Regions from separate parts of the Homo sapiens genome. Here region 2 is linked to region 1. The links come from fine-mapping of genetic effects on gene expression. A gene starts in region 1. The other region holds a variant in brackets. All regions are shown on one strand. Distances are between the middles of the regions. Region 1 holds the start of SLC6A20 (solute carrier family 6 member 20). Region 2 overlaps SACM1L (SAC1 like phosphatidylinositide phosphatase).

Region 1 (5,379 bases):
ATACACCCCTCTGCAGCCTTTCATAATGTGGCTGATTTTTACCTTCCGGTAAGGGATGGGTTGTAAACTGCCTGGGTTTGGGGCAACACAAATCACTTCTTAAAGGTGACTTTACTGTGCAGTGAAAGGCTTGGGAAAGCCTCTAGCATCCTCTAGCGTCATTTATTCTGTGGCTTTTCCTAATACCTTGCTCATTCACTCAACAAATATTTATTGGATGGCTCCTGTGACTCCATCACATCACAGAGGTTGGGCCGGGCGGAGACAGAGAAACTGAAGAACAATGTGCAGTTCTTCTGACCAAGTGCTTATGTGGCCTGTGAAGTAGTGAGGAGAGTCAGAGAGCACAACGGAGAGAAAGCAATATTTGGTCCCACCTGGAGGGAATGGTGGGAGTTCTCCCAGCAACAACAGCCTCTCAGGTGGAGGAAATATCTTGTGTGAAGGGTTGAGGCACAGAAGGAGGTGCTCATGGAAGTGTTTGGAAGGCAGGAGGAGGTTTGAAGCTGTGTGGCAGGAAATGAGGTGGAAATATTGGACAAGTGGTCAAGTTAGGTGGTCAAGTGCCTACGGTGCCAAGTGGACTGTTCGGTCTTTATTCTGTAGACATGTGGCTGACAGGGTGCCATCCACCAGACCCACACCCTCCTTTTGTCTGTGCACCCACTAATCCATGCATACACCCAGCCACCAATCCATGCTCCGTCCGGCTTCCACTCATCTATCTATCCACCCATCCAGCCGAAGCATCCTCTGCACCAGGCACAGGATTACTTCTTGTTTCTTTTTCTTGGAACCTGAGGGTCTTGAGGTTTCCCTAGCAACCCCTTGATACATATTCAACTCCAGAACTATCAGCCCCACATGCATCCCTCTGCAGACTATTCAGGTGATGGTGGTATTATAAACAAGGAATTAAGTAGTCATGTGACAGTGAGGCTCACCTGGACTGATGACTGGGAAACATGTACCCAGGATAAAGGTATCATGGGTAGGTCTACTGAGCACAGAATGATGTGGAAATCTCATTCTGACAAATAATTCTTTTTAAGAGTCAGTTATAGAGCTGTTAGAGCACATGGTAATGCTGTTAGAGCATATGGCAACATATGCCCTTCACATCATTATGGTGTATTTATGCACTTCAAATTTTAAAAAGGAATCAGGAAATTAAGAATGCACTGTTTTAAAAACTCTATGAATTAACCTTTTGTTGATTTGGGGTAAGGGGAGGAGGGAGCAGTGTTTAGCTCTTGGTCTTCTCAAATGGGTTCATTTTCGTAAATACTTTGGTCTAACATCTTCCATGATCTTTTATGGTGAAAAAAACATGCTAATTATAGAAGTCCTAATACACAAACACACACATACACACACAAAAACACACACACACGACAAGGTAAACAAAAATCACCCAGAAATTTTGTTAACAATTTGATGTCTTTTCCCCATTCTTTTCTCTGCATATTTTTAAGTAATTGTTTTAAAATGTCAAATCCATTTTATATAGCTTTGAATCTGATTTCTCCTCCCTCCACTTAATACAGGATACGAGAAAATACAATTTTTTTTTTGAAAATGCCGCCTTAAAGGCTGCGAAGAGCAACCTTGAATGGATGCTCTATAATTTACTGAACCAATCCCCTTTATTTGAGGGCTTAGGAAGTTGCCAATGTTTTGCTCTTATTAAATGATGGTGACCATCCTTCTACCTCTGTCAGAACTCTGACAATTTCCTTTAGATACAATTCTAGAAACGAGACAACCGAGAAAAAAAGTGTTTTAGATGCTGAGACTTAAATCCCTCTTGCCACATTGCCTTCCAAAAAGGTACTTGGGCTTCACGAGGTTATAGACATGTGTAGAAGGTGTTCCCAGCTTTCCGCAACGCTAGGGGAGTGCGGTAAGAGCGCGTGGCTGGCTGGCTGTCCCCGGAGCGTGCATGATGCTTCGGAGGAAACATTTATTTAAGAAAAACAAAACAAAACAGAATGATTTGCATTTCCTGCTTTCTGTCGTTCCAAACTCAAACCAATCTCCTTATAAAAAATTTAAAGAAATGGCTCAAGATTCTCTTAACCTGAGTTTCAAACCGTTGATTTAAGTTTCGGATCTGAAAGTTGTATAACGAGTTTCTGTTGAATAAGACAATTTCCTACTCACTTTTTACACCTAAACGTAAGGTTTACTCACTAAGACGTCAGACCATTGACACTTCTCTCGAAGAAGGAGACCGCGTCCCCTGCGCTCTCAGAGCCGCAGCCTGGCCAACAAGGGTGAGGGTTGGGGGCTTGGCCGCCCCCGGGATGGGGCGAGGGGTTCCCGAGGGCTTGGGAGGGCGGCTTGGGAGAGAGCTCCGGCTCCGGAACGAGGTGTCCTGGGAACACTCCCGGGTCTGTAACTTCGGACAAATCACGCTCGCTTTCCCGGCCTCAGTGTGCCGTTCTGTAACTTGGGTCTAACCCCGGCTCGCACACACGGCGGGGACGCGCACAGAGTTGGGCTGGGGCCGGGGCGCGGTGGGCACTCACCTCCGCCGTACATCTGGCACAGGTACGGGAATCGCCACACGTTGCCCAGGCCCACGGCGTACGAGATGCAGGCGAACACGAACTGTAGCGAGTTGGCCCACAGCGGCCGCGCTTTCTCCATGGCCCCGGCCTCGGCGCGCTCGGCTCCGGCTCGGGGGTCCGGCACGGCAGTCTCAGTGCGCGGTCGCCAGGCGCGCCGTCCCACCCCGGCTCGGCTTGGGGGTGGCCCCGCGCCTCCGCCGCCGACGCAGCTAGCTGGTTTTTAAATTGCTAATCTCATTAACGGCGCGCCCGTCCGAGAGGCGAGGCTGGTAAATGGATGACGGCGAGCCCCACCCCGCCCGATCGTCGCGGCCGGGAAGGCACCCGAGATTGCAGAGGACAGGGCGGAGTCCCCTGGGGTCCTCCGGCTCGGCGGGGCCTTTCTTCAGGCTGCGGAACTCCTCGAAGTGGGCGCCTTCCCTCGGCCACTCACCTGTCATTTATCGAGCGCCTACTGTGTGCCAGGCGTTGTCTGGGGACACGGCTGTGAACCACTTCCCAGCTCCGTCTTGGAGCTGACATTCTGGTAGAGGGAAACACTTGAATTGGACTGCATGAAATGCCCCATTTTCAACCATTTTTTAATTTATAGAAAGGACAATGTCATATGGTTCAACCTAGCCCACGTATAAGACTGAGAGACGCGAGGAAGACACCTAAGGCAAAGTAAAGGGGTAAGCAGTTGCGGGGGGTGGCCAGGGATGGTTAGGGAGGGCTTCTCAGAGGAGAGAACATAACATTTGCCAGGGGCCAGAAAGAAGTGAGGGACCTTCCCGGCAGTCCCGTCCCCTCCGTCCACCCAACAGCTTGGCCCTGCGTGCCTACTGGGTCCGGGGACGGAATCAGGTTTTGAACTGCTGTGGGGGACTCTACTGCTCAGGCCAGCCTAGGGGCCAGAAATTTTGATTCATTAGGCCAGGGTAGGGAACTAAGAAACCTCGTATTTCTGCCAGTCTTACAACGTGATTTGCTTGAGGGTGGTCACTAGATAAGACAGAGCTTGGTGCTTTGCAGTAATGTGGAATCTGGGTTTGTATACCAACTCTGCTACTGACTTAGCTGTGTGACCTTGGACAAGGCACTTGACTTCTCTGAGTCTCTGTGTACTCCTCTGTAATGCTAACAGATATCTTCCCCTCTCTCCTGCCTGGCAAGGAAGAGCTCATGTGAGGATTAATTGGGAACTTAGCTTACTACCTGGCACAGAGTAAGTTCTCAATAAAGAGGCCATTACCAAGTCTCCAGCAGGCTGAATGAATGAATGGGTAACATATTAATACTAATGCCACGCTTTGAACAGTGCCTAATACATTGTAACAGATAAGAAAATGCTAAATAATAATAATAAAATTTAAAAGAGATGAAAAGCAGAGTTGCTAGTGAAAATCTTACTTGAAGCCAAAATGAAATCAGTGCTCTAGGACAGCTCCTTGTTGGGCTTTCCCTGGAGTTCCTGCCTGTCTGGTCCCAGAGGAGAAGGGTGAGTAGGGTGAGGGAGGTGGAGGCTTCCTCAGACATATTACCTGTCCTGGAACTTCCTACCTCGAAAAAGCAAAGCAGAAAAAAAAGGCAGCACAGCAGGAGAAACTACTTTAATTTTTTTAAACTTCAGATTCTAGATAAATGTTTTTTCCTACCCATTGCCTCCTCCCCAAAGGAACCTACCATCCTGGTGTCTAACCCCATGGGTTAGTTTTGACCTTGATGAAAATGGAATTAAATGGGATGTACTTTTTCTGTGCCTGGCTTCATTTGCTTTCCGTTGTTTGTGGGGTTCATTCATGTTCTAGTGTGTTGTGTAGCTGTGGGTCATTCTCTCTCACTGCAGTATACTTGTCGGTGGTGTGAGTATGCTCCAGTCTACTACTGACAGATGTCTGTGTTGTCTCCAGTTTGGGGCTGTCATGAATAGGGCTGCAATGCACATTCTAGTGCACGTTCTTCCGTAGATGAATGCACTCACTGCTGGGAACTTCTTGGCCTTAGGATAGGTGTGTTTGGCTTTAGCAGATATTGTCAGACTGTTTTCCAGAGTGTGGTAGTACAAGCTGACACTCCCTTTGGGTTTCAGTTGCTTTTGCTTTGCATCCTAACACTTGTCATTCTATTTCTAAAGGTCTGCCCAGTCTTGTAGGTGTATAGTGATAGTTCATTGTGCCTTTTTTTTTTTTTTTGAGACGGCGTCTCACTGTGTCGCCCAGGCTGGAGCACAGTGGCGCGATCTCGGCTCACTGCAAGTGCCACCTCTGGGGTTCGCGCCATTCTCCTGCCTCAGCCTCCCGAGTAGCTGGGACTACAGGCACCCATCACTATGCCCAGCTAATTTTGTTTTTGTATTTTTATTAGAGACGGGGTTTCACCGTGTTAGCCAGGATGGTCTCAATCTCCTGACCTTGTGATCTGCCCGCCTCAGCCTCCCAAAGTACTGGGATTACAGGCGTGAGCCACCACGCCTGGCCCATTGTGCCTTATTTTAACTTCCCTCATGACCAGTAAGGCTGCATACCATTCCATAGGCTAATTGGGCCATCTAGGTATCTTTTTTCATGAAGTGCCTGTTCAAATTTTTTGTCAGTTTTTAATTGGGTTGTCTGATTTTTTCCTACCGATTTGTAGTTCTTTATGTATTCTGGATTTGGGTCCTATGCCAGTTTAGTGTATTACAAATTGCTTTTCTCAGTCTGTGTTGCCTTTTATTCTGTCAGTGGTGTCTTCTAATGAAGAGATATTTTTAACTTTAACAAAGTCCAATTTCCCAATCTTTTCCTTTAGTGTCCTCCTTTGGTGGTTTTTCTTATGTCCTGTT
Region 2 (5,379 bases), 100 kb before region 1:
TCATAATTGCCCTTGGCCACAAAGTCAGATCATACAGCCAAGCCATGGTAGAGCTAGCCTTGGAATACGGCTGGTCCAGAGTCCAGTGATCTTTCCATTTCATTGCATTATCCATATGACCTTTTTTTCTCTTACCAGATTGCTCTCGCATTAGTCCTCAGACATGCCAGGTATTGAAATGAGTCACTTACAACCAAATATAGTTGACATGTCCATATTAATTTCCATATGTTTAATGTGGAAAACAGAATATTGATTTGCTCAGAATTTAAAATTCATACTTTTTAAACTTCCAGGCAGTTCTAAATATCCTGTTAGGCTCCATTTTTCTTTTTAAGCCATTTGTATAGGCATGGATAATGTCAGACAGTGATAAATTTGAAATTGCAAAATAATTAGACTGGAAATGTAATTTTTAAGAAGCTTATCTATCCCTGTATATAAGCTAAAATACCTTGGCAGTTCGGCGTAGGTGTCACATTTCCTTTGCAGGGAAATGACATCAAATGTGGTTTGGGCACTTCTTAGGCCCCTCAGACCTCAAGCTCATAATAACTTTCTAAAAGGTTCAGTGGAAAGTTAGAGGTGCAAAATTATTGGATACATTTAAAGCATTTTTTCTTCTTTTTTTTTCTTTTTCTTTTAAAAGGTCAGTTGAAACTAGGTGTAAGGCAGGGAATCCTTTAGTTACTGCATCAGGCTGCAGCATGCCTCTGAAGAGTACTGTTTCCTCAGGAAATTGCCATTTTTAAAAGAGTCTCATAACTGTGAGGTCATCAGTCAGGGCAGATATGATCCAACCTTGAAAACAGATGTAACCTAAGCTACCTTGTGATACAGACACATATAATCTGTTCAATATAATGAACATTCATATTATTCACAGAAGTCTCCCGGTGGAGGGAAGGGTGTAGGGCAGCTCAGATTATTCTCATGAGTTTTAGCACAGACAATATGGGGTTTGTATCCAAAGCATTAGTTGGCTGGGAGTTCAGGCTAGTTCAGGCTTACCTAGGCTCACGTGGCTAGCCTAGGTTAGTGCTAGGCTACATCAAATGACTTGGTATGCTTGTTTTAAGTGCGTATTCCAGGGCCCCACATTAGGCCTACTGAGTGAAAATCTCTGGGGATGAGCGGTGGAAATCTGCAAGTTTAACTAGCTATCCTGGTAGTTTTTATGCACTCTGAAATATTTTAGGGCTGGGCATACATAGCTGAGTTAGGACCAGAACATGCTGGTAGAAGAGAATTCTTTGGAAGATATGGGGCTCTGGTAGATTGTGCTGTGGATTAGAGCTTCAGATTAGGTGGAATTTGGACCTAGTCCTGTGAAGAAGTCTGGTTGAGAGAATGGGTTTTAGGGCATTCAGGGAATAGGATATAGGTGGGAACACAGAGTTTTGAGAAAGAGGATAGCATTAGAATGAGTCTTTCTAGAAACACCAACTGGTTTGGAATTGGGTTGTGCCCCTGGGGAGTCTGTGATGAACTTGAGCTATAGGAGAGGCAACCAGGGAGGGCTCAGTGAGGAGATACCCAAAGGGAGGATGAATGGGGGAGGTAGGAGCACCTTCTGCCTATGAGTGTAGTATGTGCAGGGGATCCTTCTTTACTAAGTTGTTTTCTTTTTGCTCACCAAACCTAGTAAAGTGTTGTGCCTCTGTCTTTTCAACCAGAGATGTATTAAATTTGATCATTAAGACCTTGATTTAATTCTTTTTTTTTTTTGAGATGGGGTCTCACTCTGTTGCCCAGGCTGGAGTGCAGTGGCGCAGTCTCGGCTCACCACAACCACCACCTCCCAGGTTCAAGTGATTCTTGTGCCTCAGCCTCCCTTGTAGCTGGGACTACAGGCATGCACCACCAGGCCCGGCTAATTTTTGTATTGTTAGTAGAGACAGAGTTTCACCATGTTGGCCAGGCTGGTCTTGATCTCCTGACCTCAAGTGATCCACCTGCCTCGGCCTCCCAAAGTGTTGGGATTACAGGCATGAGCCACTGCACCCAGCCAAATTCTTTACGTAAGATTTTTGAGGGAATATGTTCTTGCTACAGTTTTATGACATATCACTGTGGCTCCTATGCAAAATAGTGGTTTCATTATTTTTAAAAATTGTGGTAAAATAAAACATTAAATTTACCATCTCAACCATTTTTAAGTATACAGTTCAGGGGCAATAAGCACATTCATGTTGTACAACCGTTATCACCATCCATCACCAGAACCGTTTTCATCTTGCAAAAATAAACTCTGTACCCATTAAACAACTCCCCATTTCTGTATCCTCCCAGCCCCTGGCAACCACCGTTCTACTTTCTGTCTCTATAAATTTGACTTCTCTAGATGCCTCATGAAGTGGCAGTATTTGTCCTTTTATGACTGGTTTATTTCACTTAGCATAATGTCCTTAAGGTTCATCCATTGTGTAGCATGTGTCAGAATTTCCTTTTTTTTTTTTTTTTTTGAGATGGAGTCTCGCTCTGTTGCCTATGCTGGAGTACAGTGGTGCGATCTCGGCCCACTGCAACCTCTGCCTCCTGGGTTCAAGCAATTCTCCTGCCTTAGCCTCCTAAGTAGCTGGGATTTCAGGTGCCTGCCACCACGCCCAGCTACTGTTTTGTATTTTTAGTAGAGACAAGGTTTCACTGCATTTGCCAGGATGGTCTCCA[T/C]CTCCTGACCTCGTGATCCGCCTGCCTCGTCCTCCCTGAGTGTTGGGATTCCAGGCCTGAGCCACTGTGCCTGGCCCAGAATTTCCTTTCTAAGGCTGAATAATATTCCATTATATGTATGTACCACATTTCGTTTGTTCATTTGTTAATAGACACATAGGTGGCTTCCACCTTTTTGGCTATTGTGAGTAATGCCAGTATGAATGTGAGTATACAAATACCTTTTTGAAACCCTACTTTCAGTTATTTTGAGTATATACCCGGAAGTGGAATTGTTGGGTCATATGGGAATTCTATTTTTAATTTTTAATGGGCCACCATACTGTTTTCCCATAGTGGCTGCACCGTTTTACATTCCCACCCACAAAGCACCAGGATTCCAGTGTCTCCGCATCCTAGCCAACACTCGTTATTTTCTATCCTGGGTTTGTTTTTTTTTTCCTTCTAGATAATAGCCATTTTAATGGGTATGAGGTTGGTAAGTAGTAATGTTTTTGTAGTGGGCCAGTTTTACTCATTGATTTGACAGGATTTTAAAGAGATCAGTTGTCTGAAATAAGACGTGAATGTTACATGAGAGATAAATGTTTTCAGACACTAGAAAATCGCAATGCCAACACTGAAAGAAAATAAAAATATTTGATGTTAATATTATAATTAAAGATATTGCTTTTCTTAAAATTTAACAAGACTAATTTTTTAAAAAACACTCTTAAGAGCTGTTGAATCCCAGGTGACTATAAGATTAAATGCATTTGTATTAAGTGTAATACCAGAACTGCCTTTGTTGCATTTAGCTTTTAGTCCCAGTTCCACTTCTGGGATACTCAAAATAATTAAAAGTAAGGTCTCAAAGAGGGATTTGTATACCCCTGTTCATAGCAGCATTATTCACAACAGTCAAAAAGGAGGAAGCAACCTAAGTGTTGATTCTTTCTTTTTTTTTTATTTCAACATTTTTTGTAGAGATGAGATCTCGCTGTGTTGACCAGGCTGGTCTCAAACTCCTGGCCTCAAGATCCTCCTGCTTTGTTTTTCTTTTCTTTTCCTTTTTTTTTTTTTTTTTTTTTTTTTAAGACAGGCTCTTGCTCTGTTGCCCAGGCTGGAGTGTAGTGGTGCGATCTTGGCTCAGAGCAGCCTCTGCCTCCCAGGTTGAAGTGATCCTCCGACCTCAGCCTCCTGAATAGCTGAGGCCACAGGTGCATACCACCACACCTGGCTAATTTTTGCATTTTTTGTAGAAACGGGGTTTTGCCATGTTGCCCAGGCTGGTCTCAAACTCCTGGGCTCAAGCAGTCCTCCTGCCTCAGCCTCCCAAAGTGCTAGGATTACAGGCATGAGCACTGTATCCAACCACTTTTTCTTTTTTATGCCATGCTTGGACAGTAATCCTTAAAAGCAAAATGACGAACTGAATGAAGGTAGTCAAAATAGGAGCAATTATTATACAAGTATTATGCTATTTTGATATATCTTCCATAGTATGTGTCTTATTAATGGGAACCAGAACTCTGGGTAGGTATGGGATCCCCTTGTCTTGACAGATATTTGGTAGGATTCTTGTTCAGTTAGAGTTAATAGTGAATTGGAGGCTAATCACCTCACCAGATAGTTTATATAGGACCAGAACCCTTTTTAGTATACAGTATTACTTTGAACCTTAGAGATCTGTTATCAACAGTATAGATAATGACCAAATAATCTTCTTGGATCGAATCTTGTCTTCCGAAATCCATTTCATAAAATAAGTAATATGATAGCTTGTTTGGTAAAGATTTAAACACAAAAATAGCAATAAAACAATACACACCAGGAAAAATTATACCACTGAATGTTTACTTAATTGTTTTTGACGGTTTAAATGCTAGAGAGTTAAAGTTAATTTCACTGGCTTTTGAAATGAAGCCCAGGAAGCATAAAACATAGAATAAAATTTATTACATAAAACAATTATGCTTCAGATCAGTATTAAGACCAATACAAAAGTGGTGGGAAATGAGAGGAAGAGAACAGTAAGGGCATATATGTAGGTGCCGTGAGTTAGGATGATACCTGCTGTTATGGTTAACAGAATTGTGAGTCATTACTTCTAATGAGCATCCCTAGAAATGTTGATTCCCTGGCAGTCACTGTTCACATTTTCATTGCTCCAATTCTTAAGCCTAGAGATACCACTTTCAGTGACATTATCAGAATAGCCTGATGGCAGCATCAGCAATTTAGATTCCAACAGCATCTCTCAGAGAGAGAAGATCAAGCAAAGGCCTCAGGACTTTTGAGCGAGACATCTCTACCTTGATCCATAATTACTCTTATTTGTATACTTTGTTATAATACTTTTTTTTTTGAGACAAAGTCTCGCTCTTGTGCCCCAGGCTGGAGTGCGATGGCGCAATCTCTGCTCACTGCAACCTCCGCCTCCCAGGTTCAAGCGATTCTCCTGCCTCAGCCTCCTGAGTAGCTGGGATTACAGGCGCCTGCCACCATGCCTGGCTAATTTTTGTATTTTTAGTAGAGATAGGGTTTCACCATGTTGGCCAGGCTGGTCTTGACTGAACTCCTAACTTCACGGAGTCTTGCTCTGTCACCAGCCTAGAGTGCAGTGGCGTGATCTCAGCTCACTGCAACCTCCACCTCCTGGGTTCAAGCAAGCGATTCCCCTGTCTCAGCCTCCCGAGTAGCTGGGACTACAGGCACGTGCCACCGCAC

What was found. PIP is the estimated chance that this variant, and not a neighbour inherited with it, causes the effect.
Region 2: its variant is fine-mapped to the expression of SLC6A20 in transverse colon (GTEx, PIP 0.96).

Annotation. Positions count from the first base shown.
Region 1 is chr3:45,793,768-45,799,146 of GRCh38, forward strand. It overlaps SLC6A20 (solute carrier family 6 member 20), which reads right to left and starts at 2,769. Exons shown (of 11, transcript NM_020208.4): 1 at 2,532-2,769. The coding sequence starts at 2,652. It overlaps LOC107986082 (a long non-coding RNA gene), which reads left to right and starts at 2,132. Exons shown (of 3, transcript XR_001740680.2): 1 at 2,132-2,276; 2 at 3,166-3,247.
Region 2 is chr3:45,693,551-45,698,929 of GRCh38, forward strand. All of the region lies in intron 1 of SACM1L (SAC1 like phosphatidylinositide phosphatase), which reads left to right. Among named protein-coding and RNA genes, the nearest start is that of SACM1L, 6.8 kb to the left of the region's middle. RefSeq lists an enhancer at 595-734. The variant T/C (reference allele first, on the strand shown) is at 2,671.